4 linked regions of the Homo sapiens genome follow. The protein of the gene in region 3 purifies or fractionates together with the protein of the main gene of each other region. This does not show direct contact. Each region holds a gene or a part of one and is shown on either strand. Other genes may lie near its edges.

Region 1 (4,829 bases), on a different chromosome or scaffold from region 3:
TAGAAATGACTTCATCTGTTATATCTGTAAAAAATGCCTCTTCTGAGTACTCTGGGACATACAGCTGTACAGTCAGAAACAGAGTGGGCTCTGATCAGTGCCTGTTGCGTCTAAACGTTGTCCCTCGTAAGTTATCTTCTTTCTGTTGGTGGTTTTGTTTCTGTTATCTTTATACCACCTCCTTTAGTTCAGTCAGCAAGTGTGTATTAAGGACAAAGGGACACTGACTTTGATCAGAACACTGTGGTTTGATTATTAGCTTTTCTAGAAAAATACATTTTATTAAAAAAACTTCATAATTGCAATGATATATTAAGAAGGTAAGAGTTGTCAAATCAACCCTTGTACCATATTTAGCTGTTATAAGTATGAGTAGCTTAGAACATTCTTATATGTTAACCAAGATAGCTTTGAATATTAAAATCTTTCAGACAGGTTTTATCATTTTAATGCTTGGAATAGATTATACAGTTCAGAAGACAGTTCTTTTTATGAATTTTTCCCCCGGATCAAAAAGACTAAATAATTTGTCTTAAAGTTAACACGTGATGAAATCAATCTAAAAATGTATAGCCTACCTTCAGTATCTATACATGTATATATGTATATATTTTTTACTATTAATTCTTCTTATTTTAGCTTCAAATAAAGCTGGACTAATTGCAGGAGCCATTATAGGAACTTTGCTTGCTCTAGCGCTCATTGGTCTTATCATCTTTTGCTGTCGTAAAAAGCGCAGAGAAGAAAAATATGAAAAGGAAGTTCATCACGATATCAGGTAATTAAGTGAGACAGGAGTTGACTGATGTATACCAAATATATGTCATTTCTCTAAAGCATTCGTTCTCTTATTAACCACCCAAAGCATCTTTCTTAGGAGAATGGGTAAAAGCTCTGGCCGCCTTCTCAATACATTTGAAAGCATTTACTTCTAACTGCAAGTGCAGAGCTCCAACCACCATTCGTTGTGCCCCGCTCCCCAACCTTCTCGTACCCCATTTTAAGAACCACTGCCAAATGATTATCTCAAGACTGCCTGCTTCTTGAGAAGAATCCCTGCCTGCAGTGGTAGGGATGAAGTAGATATTGAGGTTTGAAAAAAAAACTGACCTGATTGTATCAAGTAATCTGGAAGTTTGTAGAACAATTGGTAGTATAATTTTTATTTTCCTTAAATATTCTAAATCAGTAGGTCTTAACGAGAAGTGTGCATATTAGATAATAGAATTTTAGAAGTAATAACACATGACTTCACACCCTAGAAATTGACATTTGGCAGGTCTAGGGTGGGGTCTGGACACTTGTACAGGCACACTTCAGAGTTATCGCACACTGCGATAAATCACATGAATGTTTTTGTTTTTCCAGTGCATAAAAGGTTATGTTTATACTATATTGTAGTCTAAAATGTGCAGTAGCATTATGTGTAAAAAAACAGTGTAGATACCCCAATTAAAAAATATTGCTAAAAAATGCTAATGATTATCTGAGCCCTCAGTGAGTCTTAATCTCTCTGCTGGTGGAAGGTCATGCCTCACTGTTGATGACTGGTGGCTGATCAGGATGGTAGTTGCTGAAGGTTGCAGTGGCTATGGCAATTTCTTTCTTTGGTTGTTGGGTTTTTTGTTGTTTGTTTTCTGAGACAAGGTCTCGCTCTCTGTTGCCCAGGCTGGAGTGGAGTGATACAATTATGGCCCACTGCAACCTCTGCCCCCTGGGTTCAAGTGATCCTCCCACCTCAGCTTTCCGAGTATCTGGGACTACAGGCATAAGCCACCACACCTGACTAATTCTTGTATTTTTTGTAGAGATGGGGTTTCACCATGTTGCCAAGGGTGGTCTCGAACTCCTGGGCTGCATTGGCTCCTGCCAAGATGTCAACCTGTCCTTTAAAGCTTTGAAGCCAGACATTGACATCTTTAGCCACTAAAGGCCTAGATGGTGTCTTCTTCCAGTAGAAGTCTGTTTTGTCTCTATTGAAAATCTGTTACTTAGTGTAGTTACCTTCATCAACGATCTTTTAACTAGATCTTCTGGATAACTTTCTGTAGCTTCTTCATCAGCACTTTGTTGCTTCACTTTGTATTTTTATGTTATGGAAATGGCCTTTTTCCCTAAACTCATTAACCAGCCTCTGTTAGCTTCCAACTTTTCTTCTGCAGCTGCCTTAGCTCTCTCAGCCTTGATAGAATTGAATAGAGTTAGGGCCTTGCTCTGGATTGGGCTTTGGTGTAAGGGAATGTTGTGACTATTTTGATCCTCTATCCAGACCACTAAACTTTCTCCATATCAGCAATAAGACTGCTTCACTTTCTTATCGTTCACGTGTTCACTGGAGTAACACTTTGACTTTACTTTAAGAACTTTTTCTTTGCATTTACAATTTGGTTTGGCTGTTTGGTGCAAGATACTAGCTTTCAACCAGTGTTGGTTTTCAACATGCTGTCCTCACTAAGGTTAATTATTTCTGGGTTTTGATTTAAAGAGAGCCTTGCTGATGATTGCTTGACTCCAGGAGTTTGAGCTTGCAGTGAGCTAGGATCGCACCACTGCACCCTACCGTGGTTGACAGTCTCAAAATAAATAAGATATTTTTTTAAAAAGTAGAGCCATGATAACTATTCCTTTTACTTGAACACTTAGAGGTCATTGTAGGGTTATTAAGTGGCCTAATTTCAATATCATTGTGTCTCAGGGAATAGGGAGGCCTGAGGGAGGGGTGAGAGATGGGGAGGATGTTGGGGGGGATGGCCAGAACACACACAACATTTATTAAGTTTGCTGTCTCTTATGGGCATCATTCATGGTGCCCCAAAACAGTTAAAATAGTAACATCAAAGATCACTGATCACAGATCACCCTAACAGGTATGATTATGAGAAAGTTTGAACTGTTGTGAGAATTTCCAAAATGCAACACAGACATGAAGTGAGCACATGCTGTTGGAAAAATGGTACTGGTGGCCGGGCACGGTGGCTCACACCTGTAATCCCAGCACTTAGGGAGGCCGATATGGGTGGATCACGAGGTCAGGAGATAGAGACCATCCTGGCTAACACGGTGAAACCCCGTCTCTACTAAAAATACAAAAAATTAGCCGGGTGCAGTGGCGGGCGCCTGTAGTCCCAGCCACTCGGGAGGCTGAGGCAAGAGAATGGCGTGAACCCGGGAGGTGGAGCTTGCAGTGAGCTGAGATCACGCCACTGCACTCCAGCCTGGGCAACAGAGCAAGACTCTGTCTCAAAAAAAAAAAAAAAAAAAAAGGTATTGATACATTTGCTTGACACAAGGTTACCACAAACCTTCAATTTGTAAAGAAAAAACAAAACAAAACAAAAATGCAGTAAGTATCTATGAAGTGTAATAAAAGCAAGGCACAATGAAACGAGTATGGCTGTATTTTTTAAATGCACCAAAGATAACTCATATACATAGTTATTCTTCGGTATCCATGGAGGACCTCCTGCAGATACCAAAATCCAAGGATGCTCAAGTCCCTGATATAAAATGGCGGCCAGGCGCAGTGACTCACGCCTGTAATCCCAGCACTTTGGGAGGCGGAGATGGGAGGATCATTTGAGCCCAGGAGTTCAAGACACCAACCTGAGCAAGATGTCTCTATTAAAAAAAAAAAAAGGAAAAAGAAAAAGATACAATGTATATAACCTGCACACATTCTTCTGTATACTTCGAGTCATCTCTAGATTACTTATAATACCTAATATAATGTAAATACTATGTAAATAATTGTTATAATGTATTGTTTAGGGAATAATGACAAGAAAAAAGCTGTACATGTTAGGTATTTTAAAAATATTAAAACAAAATTTTCTATACATGGTTTGTTGGCTTCACAGATGTGGAACCCGTGGATGTGGAGGGCCAGTTGAGCTCTCTGTCAGTGTTTGGTATGAAAATTCTTATGCCTAAATTCCCAGCAAACTTAAATCTGTAGTGTTTTCAGCTAAGGTTTTAGATAACTTTAATATAAAAAGAATTTTTTCTTTTCCTTTTTTAAAAAATTTTAAAATTTATTATTTATTTCTCTTTTTTTGAGACAGAGTCTCACTCTGGCGCCCAGGCTGGAGTGCTGTGGCGCAATCTTGGCTCACTGCAACTTTGGCCTCCTGGGTTCAAGCGATTCTCCTGCCTCAGCCTCCCGAGTAGCTGGGATTACAGGCACCTGCCACCAAGCCCGGCTAATTTTTGTATTTTTAGTAGAGATGGGGTTTTGCCATATTGGCCAGGCTAGTCTTGAACTCCTGATCTCAAGTGATCTGCCCACCTCAGCTTCCCAAAGTGCTGGGATTACAGGTGTGATTAAGATAGAAATATACCTGTAGGTGTTAGTGTTTTCTCAACTATAAAGTGTTACATGGCTTTAACTAGATTGTCTTGACCAGTGATACTAGAATATGAAACTATTTGAGATTTGTGTTTTGTAAGACAACATTCTAGAATCATCTACATTTGTGTAAATACCATATTTCATTAAGTGTGAAGTTATAACTCTTTAATCAGAATGACAGATTGGAGACATACACAATTTATGACGTTATGGCTTGTGCTTTTTGCTTTTTTGTGACACACACACACACACACACACACACACACACTTTTATATGTTTAGTACCTAAATACAGGCTCTTATCCATGATTCATAGCTTGCATAATTGTAGGTTTTTAGAAACTTATTCTCTTGACATGTATTGGGGATTTTGCTTTGCAGGGAAGATGTGCCACCTCCAAAGAGCCGTACGTCCACTGCCAGAAGCTACATCGGCAGTAATCATTCATCCCTGGGGTCCATGTCTCCTTCCAACATGGAA
Region 2 (3,513 bases), on a different chromosome or scaffold from region 3:
ACAAAGCTCAGGAGCCTCAACCCGGCGGGGAAGACAGTTTCCTCACGAGGCAGGCAAGCAACACCAGGTGGCTCTCTTTCCCAAGATTCCCTTCTTCCATAGGCTCTTCTTTGGATAACTGCTGACACCAATCTCATTAAGTCCCAGGGAGGTGGCCTTGTCTCCCACTCTCCTTTCACAGTCTAGCCCAACTAGATAATTGACCCTTCTCCAGGCTCAAACATTTAAAACAGAAAGCTCCAATCCCCTTTACTGATGAGAGGATAGTGGTTCTCAAGTATAGACACGGATCAGCATCACCTGGGAACCTGTTAGGACTGCAGATCCAGCAATCCACGTTTTAAGAGCCCAGGTAATACTGTTGCAGGCTCAAATTGGGGAACCACTGGGCTAGGGGTTAATAAAACACAAACACAGAGAGTAACTATTATCTATCTTTTTAAATATACTTTGCCTCTCTGGCATTTGTCTACCACAGGACAAATCCTGGTCTCTAATCTGTCACACAGAACACACCTGTAGACACCATAATTCTCTTCCTCAGTGTCTAGACCAGGAGAGAAAAGGTAAAACCCCTAAGTCCTATTACCTAAGGATCCACTTCTCCTAAGTGATTAATACTAGGATTTACCTCACCCTGTAGGTGGCTGGTTTAGCTACCTCCTTGTAAGACTGCCGCACTGCCTTTATCTGCCTCAACAGGATCAGTACTATATCAAGAGTGCAACTAGTAAACCCTCCACTCACATGAGATACACTTCAGTGCTCCTGCCTTCTGAGACAGCCACAGCTCTGGGGTAGAGCCAGTCCCAAGCATCTGCCAAAACCTCATCTGGCGTCTTCTCCCTCTATTTACAGGGGGAAACCCAGGGCTGAGTGCCACAAAACTAGGGTTGCCAGATATAGCAAATAAAAATAGGCAACCCTGTACTAAAATTTCAGCCTGGAAATAATAAGATAGTATTGTTTTCTAGGTTACAAGTGCAGTCACATCCTGTTTCTGCTCTCTCCTGAGTAACCTTTAACTGCTGTCCCTATCATCATAGTGAATAGTTGGTGACAATTATCCATTGTGGGAAACAACACGGGAAGAATTTTGGGAGCACTCTAACAACAAAAATGTTTAAAAAGGAGATGTTCATTTTCAAAGTTAGATATCAAAATGGAATCCATTTTGATAGCATCCATTAAAATTGTTTAAGTGTTGGAGATACTTTCATAAAAACAGACACTAAAAGGCTGATATCCCAAGAATGTCTTTCCTCAATTTAAAATCATGCAGAGAGTGTCACCTGCTGGTTACAAGTAAGATGAGCTTCAATTATTTTATTATGAATACTTTGTTCAAATCAAATTTCCTTTCTCCTGCCAATCTTTGTCCCAAATATAATGAAATCAGAAGATGGAAGATACTAACATTGCAACAATATTCTTCTTCATTAAAATGCTGACCTGTTTACACTAAAACATATCATCTTAAGGCCCAAACATTTATTTTCAAATAGATAGTAAACCTGCCATTTTGGGCTTTTTTACTGTTCTTTCCTTAATTATTCATGAACCATTCTTAGCTTCTGAACCTAAATTTTTGGAGTATATAGAATCGTCTATCCTACTTTCTATAAGCAAGCTGTTAGAACTTTACTTTCAGTTCTACTTTCATAACAACAAAACCTTATTTACAGAAATATAGCACTAAAGTAGGAGACAAAGGAACTCAGCTCTCTGGTGGCCAGAAACAACGCATTGCCATAGCTCGTGCCCTTGTTAGACAGCCTCATATTTTGCTTTTGGATGAAGCCACGTCAGCTCTGGATACAGAAAGTGAAAAGGTAAGAATTTAAATTGGGTTCATCCATACTTGAATCAGTCATCCTTAAAAATGCTGTATTCTCCATAGTAAAGAACAAAATGCAGCCAGATTATTGACAGTTACTTACATCACCTTTCAGTAAAATGTAAACACTTTCTGTAGCTGTTATTCAGGAGAGTAAAGATGACACAAGGCAGATTAGTCTTAGAGCACATATGCTTCACAAACCATCACTAGATCAGTTTGCGTTGACCTAAGAAGCTGCTTTCAGGAACCATATTTCCTACTTCTACTGGCAGCATCTCTTCAGCAACCATAAGGAAAAGTGGTAGTGTAAGACAGTGTTAAAATCTGGCTGTACCTTTTAAGATAAATATTAGCAATCATTTCTAGTCAGAGAAAACGTTAAAAATTCAGATTATCTGAAAGACGAACTCAGTATGAGGTATTCTCTACAATAAAAAAATTCGGGAGTCTGTATTTGGCCTTTGCTCAGGCTTCTTGAATTTACTGTGAGCTGGATTTGAGGTCTGTTTTCAAGGATGTTGTAACATCCTTGAAACTAAGGTAAACACATTAGTAAATGTTTTTAAATGAGTCAGTGAACTGTATTTACTGCCTTAACTTTAAGAGTAGATGACTGCTGGCCGGCACCTACTGCCGTGGCTCACACCTGTAACCCCAACACTTTGGAAGGCTGAGGTGGGAGGATCACTTGAGCCCAGGATTTTTGAGACCAGCCTGGGTAACACAGAGAGACATTGTCTCTACAAAAAATAAAATAATTAGCTAGGCATGGTGGTGGGAACTTGTAGTCCCAGCTACTCAGAAGGCTGAGGTGGAAGAATCGCTTGAGCCCAGGAGGTTGAGGCTGCAGTAAGCCATGATTGTACCACTACACTCCACCCTGGTGACAGAGTGAGGCCCTGTTTCAAATAAAAAAAAAAAGTTAGGGATAGATAACTGCTGCCTCGGAACTAACCCAAATTAGGGTTCAGTCATCTGATATGACAAATCCTTTGTTTTCAAAAACCTGTTCTATTTCACTGACACCTTGTTAAGAAGGATCTATTGTTGTATTGTTGTGGAGCTTTTTTTTTTTTTTTTCTTTGAGATGGAGTCTCGCTCTGTCGCCCAGGCTGGAGTGCAGTGGCGCAATCTTGGCTCCCTGCAAGCTCTGCCTCCCGGGTTCACACCATTCTCCTGCCTCAGCCTCCCGACTAGCTGGGACTACAGGCACCCACCACCAAGCCCAGCTAATTTTTTGTATTTTTGATAGAGATGGGGTTTCACCGTGTTAGCCAGGATGGTCTCAATCTGACCTTGTGATCTGCCCGCCTTGGCCTCCCAAAGTGCTGGGATTACAGGCGTGAGCCACCATGCCCGTCCTACTGTGGAGCTTTTTATGGAAGAGGAATTAGGGAAAAGAACTATTATGAGAATTAATCTATGTGATTATGGAATAGGTTGTCCAAGAAGCCCTGGACAAAGCCAGAGAAGGCCGCACCTGCATTGTGATTGCTCACCGCCTGTCCACCATCCAGAATGCAGACTTAATAGTGGTGTTTCAGAATGGCAGAGTCAAGGAGCATGGCACGCATCAGCAGCTGCTGGCACAGAAAGGCATCTATTTTTCAATGGTCAGTGTCCAGGCTGGAACAAAGCGCCAGTGAACTCTGACTGTATGAGATGTTAAATAC
Region 3 (5,580 bases):
TCACGGATCAACCAGAGAATGTTTATTCTACTCAGATGGAATAATTGTGATAAAAGAAAACCAAAGTAATTCAATAATGACAAAAAACAAAAGGACAGGAAGTTTCTGAATTTGTGTTATCTTGTATATCTGACAACTCGACTGAACCTGTGGAGTTGCAAAATCATAAAGGTAGAACCTGCTAGCAAAGCTCCATGAAATGCTTGCAAGCATTAGCTGATAGGTTTCAAAACAGTATGAATATTAGTCATCACAGATATTCCTGCCAAAAAGGGTAGCGTGTCAGAAGAACATCTGCAGCACACATAAATACCCTCTGCTAAGTTAAACTCAGAGAGGAAATAAGCTTCCAAAGTTGCACAAAGCAAAGATGCTGAAACAGCAGAGCTTTGTATTAAGGGGTTGATAGACTTGCTCTCATGGTGAAACTGTTTGTTGAGGAGGTAGTTAGCTCCCAATAATATTACATGCTTGACCTTTAGCTTTTAGTGACAAAAATTGTTTCAGGACGCATTTGGGCTCAGCCTACTCAATAAGAAATCACATTGTATAAATTGAGCATTAATTGTGTCAAAATGGGGATCATAAGTGATTAATACTCCCAAATTACAATGATATGGTAAAATGAAAAAAAAAATCAGCTAACCCCAGGATATACCCAAATGTGTTATAGGATCAAGTGTTAAAAGCAAGCAGGTCATAATATTTGCTAAGAAAAAAGAAAGAAAAGGAAAAAAAAGCTGCAGAACCCATGGTATTATCTTGAACTATTTTAAAGTAGAAAAATATGAAATCAGACAGGAGCAACCTGCCACATGGAAGATGATCTGAAGAATCATCACTCTTATGATCAGAATCCTGTGAATACAGAGCTTTCATTTCTGGTGGCAGAACCATTTCTCAGTGAGCAACATTGTTTTGCCATAGGACAGAGGAGGTTGTGATCTATTGCAGATTTCTGTGGGTCCTGGATGCCGAGACCAGGAACCCTACAAAGAGAAATCCATGCATGTGGCGTTGCTGAGGATGGCTGCGTGAGTTTCTCTTTCGAAGTAATGTGTTTTGTTTTTTTTCTTTTTTGTCTCAACGTATCCAAACAGTACAGTTGTAGAGATGGGGATGGAATTTTATTTGTCTTTTGCTTTCATTGTTTTCTCTTGTTAAAAGAAAAACAATTGATTTAGAGTTTAAAGGCTGCTCTGCAACTATCAATTATATAAAGCCAAATAGAGTCATATACTAAATCCTTTCTTGCTTCTCAACTAAAAAAAAAAAAAAAAAATCCTGTGAAATCACTTTAGGTTTGCTTAACCAATGTACAGTCATGATTTGAGAGCATAAGAAACCCTATAAGAAACCCTATGCCTTAAGTGAATCCCATTGTGAGATACTTGAGCTATGAGGCGGAAGTTTCAGGCTAAGCAGTGTAATATCTTTTCAGGAGGCTAATATGCTGATCCATTTAGAGCACAGAGGCTGATTGATAACTGTGCTATCAATCCCCATCACTTTGGCAGGTCTTGGTTAGAGAGGAAAGATCTTGCATTTAGGTGAAGTTGAGTCAGGAATTGGCTTTTTGAACTTAGAAAACGTTGCTAGTGTAAGGCTACCTTTTTTATTATTAATCTACAGTTCATATTTATGCAGCTTAAGAAGACTTATTTGGAATAATAAGACCGTGATTCAAGATCTTAGCATCATTGCTTGCAGATTTGTCCAGTATGAAAGATATTTTCATGAGATGAATCACTTAAAGACATTAAGAGTCAGTGATGAAACCACACACTCTCGAGTTTGAAAAGAGACAGGGCTGCTTTAAGAGAGAAACAGGAAGTTGTAACTAGAAGCCATCTGAATACTAAGCCAGGGCAGAATGCTTGTGAAGTAGCAACTAAAGTGGCAGTGTTTCTTCTGAAATTCTCAGGCAGTCAGACTGTCTTAGGCAAATCTTGATAAAATAGCCTTTATCCAGGTTTTTATCTAAGGAATCCCAAGAAGACTGGGGAATGGAGAGACAGTCAAGGGTTATGTCAGAAAAGGATGAGTATCAGTTTCAACATCAGGGAGCGGTGGAGCTGCTTGTCTTCAATTTTTTGCTCATCCTTACCATTTTGACAATCTGGTTATTTAAAAATCATCGATTCCGCTTCTTGCATGAAACTGGAGGAGCAATGGTGTATGGTGAGTGCATAAATTGTGAGATTGATGTGAAACTTGTTGCTTGAGCGTAATTAGAGACTTGTGCTCAGATAGCAAAGTACCGAAACTGGAGAAAATGTGCTGATTGAAATGTCATTAGTTTGATGAAAGGTGCTGCAGCGTAACGAATGCTAATCTCTTTACAGACAAGCCGCCGAAATTTGCCATGTCACGAGAGCAAATGTCACAGTCATGTTCTCACACGGCACATAATGCAAGTCTGTTGACAGATGCGGGTCCATTGTCATGTGGGGAGTCGAGGGCGAGCTGTTTGTTTTTGTAATGATGTTGGGAAGTGATGGCTCTGCAGTCACAAAGAGCAGCCTTCTCTCACTGGCTGCACCGATGAACATTACGAAGTTCTAGAAAAAACATCACTTCAAAATGCCTGGAGTAATTCCTCTTATATCAACTAATTTCAAGAAGAAAACTTGCAGAAACTAACCCCACCCCTCTTAAGAGAATATTGTGTCCAAGTCCTTTTTATTTATACGAACAGTGTCTTATTTTCTTATAATAAAAAGTTATAAATAAACGAGAGTTTCTTTATGCAGTACTTTTTACTTCTTAGCCTGATTTCAGATGTTCTAATTTATAATGATCATTGCTAGTGTTATTTGTTATGTATCTCCTATTTATGTATTGGAGGCCAAGGTGTGGAAAAATATTTAACACCTGCAGTATTGCTCTTTCTGGGCAACTTACCGTATCATTCCTTTCAGAAAGTTTAATAAAGTCTGACAGAGATTATCTGTCTGTACTCTCATCTTTTAAAGTAAAATGAAAGACACCAGTTTTTACTGGTGTTACTGATGAAATAGTTTACTTCACTGCTCTTATCTCAGCCTGATAATGGATAGGAAGTTTGAACACAATGGCAACAGGCAAGGCATTGCTATAATTTATAGCAAATAACATACTTTTATATTTGGGGTTTCCTCATTTTGGAAATCCTGAAACCCTTTCCTAAGCCTGAGATTCAGGGTACAGATCAATGCACATTGTATATGCTAATCCTGTGGTGTCCTGATATTAACAGTGTATAGTTGTGATTTCAGAACCTAAGGAATCCTAAGCCTTAAGTGGATCCCACTGTGAGATACTTGAGCTATAAGGCGGAAGTTTCAGGCTCAGGAGGCTGATATGCTGATCCATTCAGAGCACAGAGTTAAATTCCTTGGTACTGAGGGTCTTTTAAAAATTTTTTGCTTGGGAGTGGGGAGGGACAGCATTAGGAGATATACCTGATGTTAAATGACGAGTTAATGGGTGCAGCACACCAACATGGCACATGTATACATATGTAACTAACCTGCACGTTGTGCACATGTACCCTAAAACTTAAAGTATAATTAAAAAAAGAAAAAAAACATAACCCAAATGCAAAAAAAAAAAAAACCTTTTTTTGCTGTATTGTTTTATTTATTTTTTAAAATTTAGTGGAGACAGGGTCTCACTATGTTGCCCAGGCTGGTCTCCAACTCCTGGCCTAAAGAGATCCACTGACCTTGGCCTCCCAAAATGCTGGCATTACGGGCATGAGCCACCATTCCCAGCCAGTATTGAGGGTCTTAACGGGCACAAGAAAACTCTCATTTAAGAGAAAAAAAAAATCACAATCAGGTGGGAGAGAAATAGCCAAACAAAAAGGAGGGGATGCCATCAGATGTGAAGCCCTAGGTTCCTGTCATTTGCCTATCTCCATCATGAACAGAATTTTTCTCTTGACTTGACTAATAAGTAATCTGCAAGGATATGGAATAGAATCTGAGAAGCCAGAAACAATGTAATTCTTGATATCATATTAAAGGGACATATGTGCTTTAGCAAAACTACCCAGATTTAATAGATTGCCAACCTTTATTAGAGGGAAAGATTTCTTCACATCCCTGAATTTGATTGAACTATGACTCATTTACCAAGTTCAATGGTGGGGATATTGTTTTCGTAAAAGTTTTGATAACCTACTAAAATTCAGTCATGTTTTGCATTCACAATACATACAGTAACTCTTACTTTTGAATCTGAAAAATTCCAGGTTACCTTTAATCCTGCAAAACTCTCTGAAATATTTTTAAATTGTGCTTGAAATAATAAAATAGTAGTTCATTGACCACTGCTATTGAGGTAGCATTTCTCTAAATTGCTGTTCTTAAGGCAGATAAAGGCTTAAAGTTTATGAGTGGAATTAAGTTGGGTTCTCTGATTCCTATTCTTCTTTCATGAGTTTTTTAAAGTAAAAGTTATTGAAAGCAAATTCTGAACCAGTGCAATGTAAAAGGATTATAAAAATTATGGAGATATGCATATATATGTATTCTCTTACTAGAAATTTTGAGTATCTTTCAGTTATCTTGAACTATATAGATCAATGAAAAGACATATTTTAGTGATGTTTAACTTTTTCTTGGCATAGAATCATAATTGTTAGGATGTCAAAGAATTTTAGAGGTTATCTTCTCTATCCCCTTTATTTTAGAGAGGCAGAAGCTGAATCCCAGAGAAGTGAAGGGACTTTCCAAAACTGAATAGCCACTCATGACTGGTCCATGTGCTTTCACTCATCTGCATGTCTTACTAAGGTTCACGTTCACCTGAAAGAACTCTCCCTGTGTTTTCTGAAAGTACTCCATATGGGTGGCATTCATGACTTGTCACATTTCTTCTTCAGGGATGTCCTAAATGTTATATCTTAAATGCTTATTAGGAACTTTCTATCAGTAATGTAATAAAATAGTCTGAAACTACACCAGAGGAACATGATGGGATACTGTAGTAAACACTTTTTAATGATAGGGGAAAGGAGATGCCAAGTGAATTAATTGTCCAACAGCTATAAATGAACTTGGAATCATAGATGGGGAAGGAGCCTTAAAGATCATAAATCCAGCATTCTCATTTTGCAGACAAACAAATGAAGACTTAGAGAGATAAAAGTCGTGTAATTAGTTAGCTGTTGAGGTGGGATTCAACCTCCATCTCTTTAATAAGAGATGCTAAGATATTTAAAAATAAGTAAATTATTGCAATAATTTTCCTGGAGAAAGGATGTGTCTGTGGGATCTAGATGCATCCTCATATGGTTAAGCTTTCAGGATTAGCCAGATTCTCTTTTCCAGGAGGTCTAAAAGAGTGAATTTTCAGCATCCCACATTGTACTATCCCCCTTTCCATTAAAGGATTAAACTCTTAGCTTTTGCAAGAGCAGGGGGGCATGGTGATAACTAATGGGGAAGAAAAGAAACAAAACTATGTTTAAAACTTAAGCTTTTTGAGCTATGATTGTGCCACTTCACTCCAGCCTTCACTCGAGCCTAGGTGACAGAGTGAGACTGTGTCAGAAAGAAAGAAAGAAAGAAAGAAAGAAAGAAAGAAAGAAAG
Region 4 (5,466 bases), on a different chromosome or scaffold from region 3:
TAAAGTCACTCGAGGGAGGTCAGAGAGTTTGGGGACTAAATCTCGAGTCTCTCATTAATTCATGCACATATTTAAAAAATATTTATCCGGAGCCTGTTCCAAGCCAGATGAGATGGCAGTGGGTACAAAGATGAATAAAACACTGTCCCTGCGTAGGAAGAAGATCACGTTCTAGCCTGGGGGAGAGCGCCAGGAAAAGTAAACAGGTCCCCCCCTGCTTTGTGAGGTGATGAGTGCTGGGGAGATAGGAAGAGAGTGGGGACCATGTTTCTAATCTGATTCTCCTACCGACGACCAGCTCAGTTGTTATTTACAAATACCTGTCCCCTAAAGGGGGGAGCGGGGTTGGGGGGGCTTGGCCGTGCTGCTGGGGTCAGAGCTCGCAGGGGGGTTCTGCCGCAGTGTGGGGACAAACTCTCCCTTATTGGGCAAATATTTCCCGGGGCGCTACGCTAAGCACACGGGCTCCCCGAATTTCCCTCCCCAGGGCCTCTCTGTCTTTGGATGGCCTGTCAGCAAGTCCCTGCAGCCTCCAGCCCGGCCCGCGCGGCGACCCAGTCCCCTGTCGCCCGAATCTTCCACCGCTGCGAAGCGTCCCCGGGCGAGCGCCCTGCTCTCCGCGCTGCGCGGAAGCCAGAGCCGGTCCTCACAGTGAACTCGCCCAGCCCTGCTCGCGGCTCTCTCGATTTTATGTGGGTTTCGTTGGATGCATTTTGTTATTTGCCTCAATGGATGTTTCACATTAATTTTTAGTTGCACAACGAACGCGCGGGAACATTCTCCGTGAGAGAAAAAGCACGGGTGGGGGGCGGTTACCGGTGCTTCCCCCGGTCGCCTGGGGGTCCCGCACGCGCCCCGCGGGTGCCGCTGTCTGGCTGGGGTCCCTGGGTGAGCCGCGGGCACCGGCTTCGCGTCTCCCCGGGCGCGACTCCGCTTTGCAAGCGCTCAGCACACGGGAAACCCTCGGAAAACACACACGTGTGTAAAGTTTGTTCCACGCAGAAACAAAGGACGCGTGGGGGCCGCTTCTGGGGCCTCGGTCCTTTGTTGGAACCCCGCACCGCAGCCCGGCCCGCAGCCTCGCCCCGCAAGGGGAAGCCGGCCCTGCACAGGCCCGGGGCCCGGAAGGCGCCGCCGCACAGCTCTGCGCCCCCGACCCGCTCCGGCCGCGCGCTGGGCCAGGCCCTTGGCCTCAAGCCTCCCGGGCGGCTCCGGGCCGGACCCGGGTCTCCGTCGCGGGACGCCAGCCTGTTTGTGGGTGCCGTGCTCGGGCCCGGGCGGCCCCTGCCCGACGCGGCCCCACGGAGCCCCTGCACGAACCCCGCCGACCTGGCCCGGGGCGGCAAGTCGAGGTGCTTAGGGCGCCCTGGGCCCGGCCAACCGTGGAAAACCCGGCCCGGGGCACGGGGGGGCGCGGGGGTCGCAGGGCCAGGGCCCAGGCAGGGAACAGAGATTTTTTTCGCGGGGAGGGGGGTGGGAGGTGTCAAAGTTTTCGGGGAACTTTTCCACTTGAGATTCCACGACCCTGCAGTGCCCCCTACAGAAAGCGGCAGCTGGGGAGGGCGGGCGCCCCCGACGACCCCCGACTGCCAGCGGCGGCGCGGCCAGGCTGCCTGGAGTTCTTGTTCCTTTTTTTTTTTTTTTTTTCCTTTTATTTCCTCGTGGTTGTTTGTCGGATACATCTTTTTCCAGAGTGGGAAAAAAAAAAAAAAAAGCGAGCGCCGCCGCCTGCAGTAGAGCGTGCTCGGCCTGCAGAGGCAGTCGTCTCCAACTTTTCCTCTCCCGCTCCAACTCCCCGCGCCCAAAACTTCAGTTCTTGGGGAGCCCAAATTTGCCTGCCGCGCAACTTCCACTCTAATTCAGCGACCAAGGGCCCTGGCAGCGGTTTGCAGCCTGGGGGCCACGCTCCCCAGGCTCAGGCCTGCTCGTTGGCCTGCTCCTAGTGCCTGGACCCAGTTGGGGGAGGCGAAACAGGGCGCCCGAGGAGCACCCCGGGAGAGGGCGGAGCACTCCCGTGCCCCGGGGCAGGAGTGCAGGGAGCTCCCGCGCCCGGAACGTTGCGAGCAAGGCTTGCGAGCGTCGCAGGGGGGCACTCGCGAGGGACGGACAGGAAGAGGGCCAGGGGGGAACGCCAGAACCCGGGACCACAGCACGGAAACGGTCCGGGGCTGAGCTGCAGTCAGATCCGGGGATGGAGGGAGCCGGAGAAGAGGAGTGAGAAGGCCGGGGAGGCAGGCCCTGCTGTCTTCCTGCAGGCCGGCAGCCTGCTGGCAGTGGAGGACCAGGCCGTCCAGGAAAGGAAGGGGTCAGGAGGTCGGGCAGGGCCTCAGCAGGTTCAGACAAGTCCCCAGAAGGGAGCTGCAGGCGCCCTCGAGTCCAGGCCCCAAGCCTGGCTCCGGTTGTCCAAAGAGGGCCTAGGCCAGGCCTCTGGTGCGGAAACTGAGTCACAGCCAGACCTCAGGGCACGGCCTAGACGCTTACGAGCCAAAGTTAGGGGTAGAGAGCAGAGACCTCCGGGGGGTCTCAGGGAGTAGGGGGCTTCAGGGCCTCCCAGTCTAGAGCCGGATTGGCGAGTTAGACGCTTGTAGATCCAAGGTTGGATTGGGGTGGGGTCTCTGGGACGTTGGATCGCTACGCAAGGATTGGGGGGATTCAAGTGCTTAGAGATCGAAGTCTGCCCTGGGTAGGGGGAGTCAGACAATTGGAAAGCCTAGGTAGTTATTTGGGGAGGGGTCTCTACGCCTTGGCGAAGCGCACAGCTGCATCTTTTTGGCTTGAGGCCTGAGGCCTTGTCGAGAAGCTTCCGTGAAAGGGTGGGCCAGCCGGGCCACGAGAAAGAAAGTGAATAAATCAGGAATATAAGTGGGCGGGGGGCCCCTGAGAGGGGGGTCGCAAAGGGTGAGACATGGCCACCAGGCGTTTAACCGACGCTTTCTTGTTGTTGCGGAATAATTCCATCCAAAACCGGCAGCTGTTAGCCGAGCAAGTGAGTAGTCACATCACCTCCAGCCCTCTGCATTCACGTAGCATTGCTGCGGTGAGTCTCCTGGCGGCCTCTCCGACACACGGACCGTGTGCACTGCGGCTCTGCCTGTTTGTCTGTCTCTGTCTGTCTCTCTGTTTAAAAAGAGAAGATAAGAATAATAAGACTAAGAATAATAAGATCTCTTGGCTAGAGTCAGGGGGCATCTGTAGCCCTGGATGAGGAAGAAGCGGTGCTGTGAGGCCGCAGCTCCACCTCTGCCCGGTCTTCTCCTCACTTCCGCAGCACCCCCCCCCCCGCACCCCCCGCCTTGGCGTCACTGCGCTACAGGCCGCCTGTAATTTACATATGTTTTAACGCTAACATTGGGAAGCATTGGGCCTTTCTGAAGCCTTTTTGTTTCGTTTTGTTTGAAGCTCCCCTCCCCCCAGTAATGAGCCTCAGTTTGGTCCTAAGGGCTGGGTCGCCGGATCGTAGACCCAAATCCTTGCAAAATGAACGACTCCCTCCCCTCAAAGAGGAGGGAGTTGTGTTGTTGTTTTGTTTTGTTTTGTTTTTCCGCCCGTTTTCTTTTAACGGCCCCGCAGCCCTCTGTGTGGCCTTGTTCCCTGTGAATAATTGCCTCACTGTTCTTCCTGGGGGCTTGCGTTTGTGAGACTCAAGGTGCTAGCCTCTTCACTTTCCATTTCCCAGACAGGAAATTAAGCTTTCCTCTCCATTCGAACTTTTTAAAAAAAGCCTGAGGAGGTATATGTGAAAATTAACCCCGTAAAATAGCACTTTTTTTTTTTAATTAACCACAACCTTTAGTTAGCCTAGCAGTAGCGTTTTTTAAGGGTGGTCCTGGAAAAATTACTGTTTGGGGTTTGTTTTTAATGGGGGCTACTTTTCCCTTTCTGAGCCTCAGTTTACTGCTCTGTTAAATAAGGGGCGAGTCTGGATGATCTATACCAGACAGTGATCGTTAGCTCTGTAATGTCTTCAATTGAAAAGTGAAGTTATGAAACTGGCTGTAGTTCAGGCTACCTGCTGTAGGCAGACTAGGTTGGAATAGAAGCAGCGTTGGAACAGGCGGGAAATAGCCATCCCAGGACCACATTCTTGGGGGTTATACTTGATATTAGGCAATTTTGGAACATTCATTTCACCTCTTAGGGACTGTATTGCCAGTTTATTTTTTTCTTTATGGCTTTATCTAAATGCTTCAGGAAAATTTTGCCATATGTCATGATTATCATGTCTACAAAGACAGTTTCTCCTTTTTGTAAGTCACAGGTGGAGAATGTCTTTGGCCATATAACTGATAGAAAAGTCATTTTAAGCCGTGTGAGCGGTTTCAGGAATAAAAGCATGTAAACTCAGGTCAAACAGCCTAGAACTAGGGACAGAGTGTGTGTGAGATTTCAGTTAATTAAGAAGTTGAAGGGTTTTTTTTACATTTATAAACGGAAAGGAATTACATTATATTGAAATAAATGTAAAGATGTCTGGTAGCATAGAAACAGGCTAATTCTAGCGCTAATTTTGAAGAAGAAATAATCCAAGAAATCGAGTAGAAATTGGATGAATTCAATTCCTTAATGGAACTTCAGTAATGTTAAATAAGAACTGCATGTTCCTTAAATGACTTGATTTTGTGCTGCCTCAAAAACTACTGAAACTCATATTAAGATTTCTAAGGTATCAGTTTTAATTGAAAAACATATTGTTTATTTTTCAATTTTTAATCATTAAGGTTCAAAATACCCTGAACCTTTGGGTAACATGAGGGTTTTTTTTTTTTTCCCGATTAAGTCAGACAGTTTAAAAACCTAGTATCTGAGACGGGAAGCTTTTTAAAAGTGCATCTCTGAATCAGACCACTTTAGAAAATTATTTTCTAAGTTAGGCAATTTTAAAAAATATTTAAGCTAAGCAGAATAATTAAAAATGGATAGTTAACGTATACAGTTTGGAAAAATAGATATGTCAGGGTATATACAGATACATTTAGCTAACTCACAGTTTTTTGAAAATAGATTTCTAAACCCAACTAAAAATACATTTCTAAGAACGTTAAAAAATGTTTTCTAAATGTCATACCATTGAAAATGTTAATATTTATATTAGTCTGACCATTTAAAATCTTTCTCAGATCATTGAAAGCAGTCATATCATTTAAAATATCCTTATAGTCAATCCATACTATCTCAAAAATAGGTTTTGCAGTCTAACAAACATAGTTTGCCTGAATTCAAATTTAAAAATAAAACACAGATTTATATATTTTAATTGTGTTAAAAAATGGCATGTCATAAATTTCTGAAGTATTTAGGGTTGAAGTGTTACATCTTCACTTTGCTTACAGGTGATTCGTAACAAAATCTATTCTGCACACAGTACGGCGAAATGCTAACAAGACTAAATAGAGGTTATGATTTTTTCAACTTTTCTGGAAGTTGGAAAAGCTTTATAAACATTTTGAAGCAAAAGCCATGTTTAAC

What was found. Proteins that work in one complex are often made in the same cells at the same time.
Region 1: the proteins of SLC9A9 (region 3) and CXADR purify together in Homo sapiens (affinity purification with mass spectrometry; one large-scale study listed by BioGRID and IntAct). This does not show direct contact.
Region 2: the proteins of SLC9A9 (region 3) and ABCB1 purify together in Homo sapiens (affinity purification with mass spectrometry; one large-scale study listed by BioGRID and IntAct). This does not show direct contact.
Region 4: the proteins of SLC9A9 (region 3) and STX16 purify together in Homo sapiens (affinity purification with mass spectrometry; one large-scale study listed by BioGRID and IntAct). This does not show direct contact.

The regions. Positions count from the first base shown.
Region 1 is NC_000021.9:17,560,699-17,565,527, forward strand, and holds part of CXADR (coxsackievirus and adenovirus receptor isoform 1 precursor), read left to right. Parts: intron 1-3; coding exon 4-126; intron 127-639; coding exon 640-778; intron 779-4,729; coding exon 4,730-4,829. UniProt on the Homo sapiens protein: Component of the epithelial apical junction complex that may function as a homophilic cell adhesion molecule and is essential for tight junction integrity.
Region 2 is NC_000007.14:87,504,216-87,507,728, reverse strand, and holds part of ABCB1 (ATP-dependent translocase ABCB1), read left to right. Parts: intron 1-1,685; coding exon 1,686-1,832; intron 1,833-3,279; coding exon 3,280-3,486; 3' UTR 3,487-3,513. UniProt on the Homo sapiens protein: Translocates drugs and phospholipids across the membrane. Catalyzes the flop of phospholipids from the cytoplasmic to the exoplasmic leaflet of the apical membrane.
Region 3 is NC_000003.12:143,844,749-143,850,328, reverse strand, and holds the start of SLC9A9 (sodium/hydrogen exchanger 9), read left to right. Parts: upstream 1-1,860; 5' UTR 1,861-2,006; coding exon 2,007-2,181; intron 2,182-5,580. UniProt on the Homo sapiens protein: Endosomal Na(+), K(+)/H(+) antiporter. Mediates the electroneutral exchange of endosomal luminal H(+) for a cytosolic Na(+) or K(+).
Region 4 is NC_000020.11:58,649,102-58,654,567, forward strand, and holds the start of STX16 (syntaxin-16), read left to right. Parts: upstream 1-2,181; 5' UTR 2,182-2,905; coding exon 2,906-3,037; intron 3,038-5,466. UniProt on the Homo sapiens protein: SNARE involved in vesicular transport from the late endosomes to the trans-Golgi network.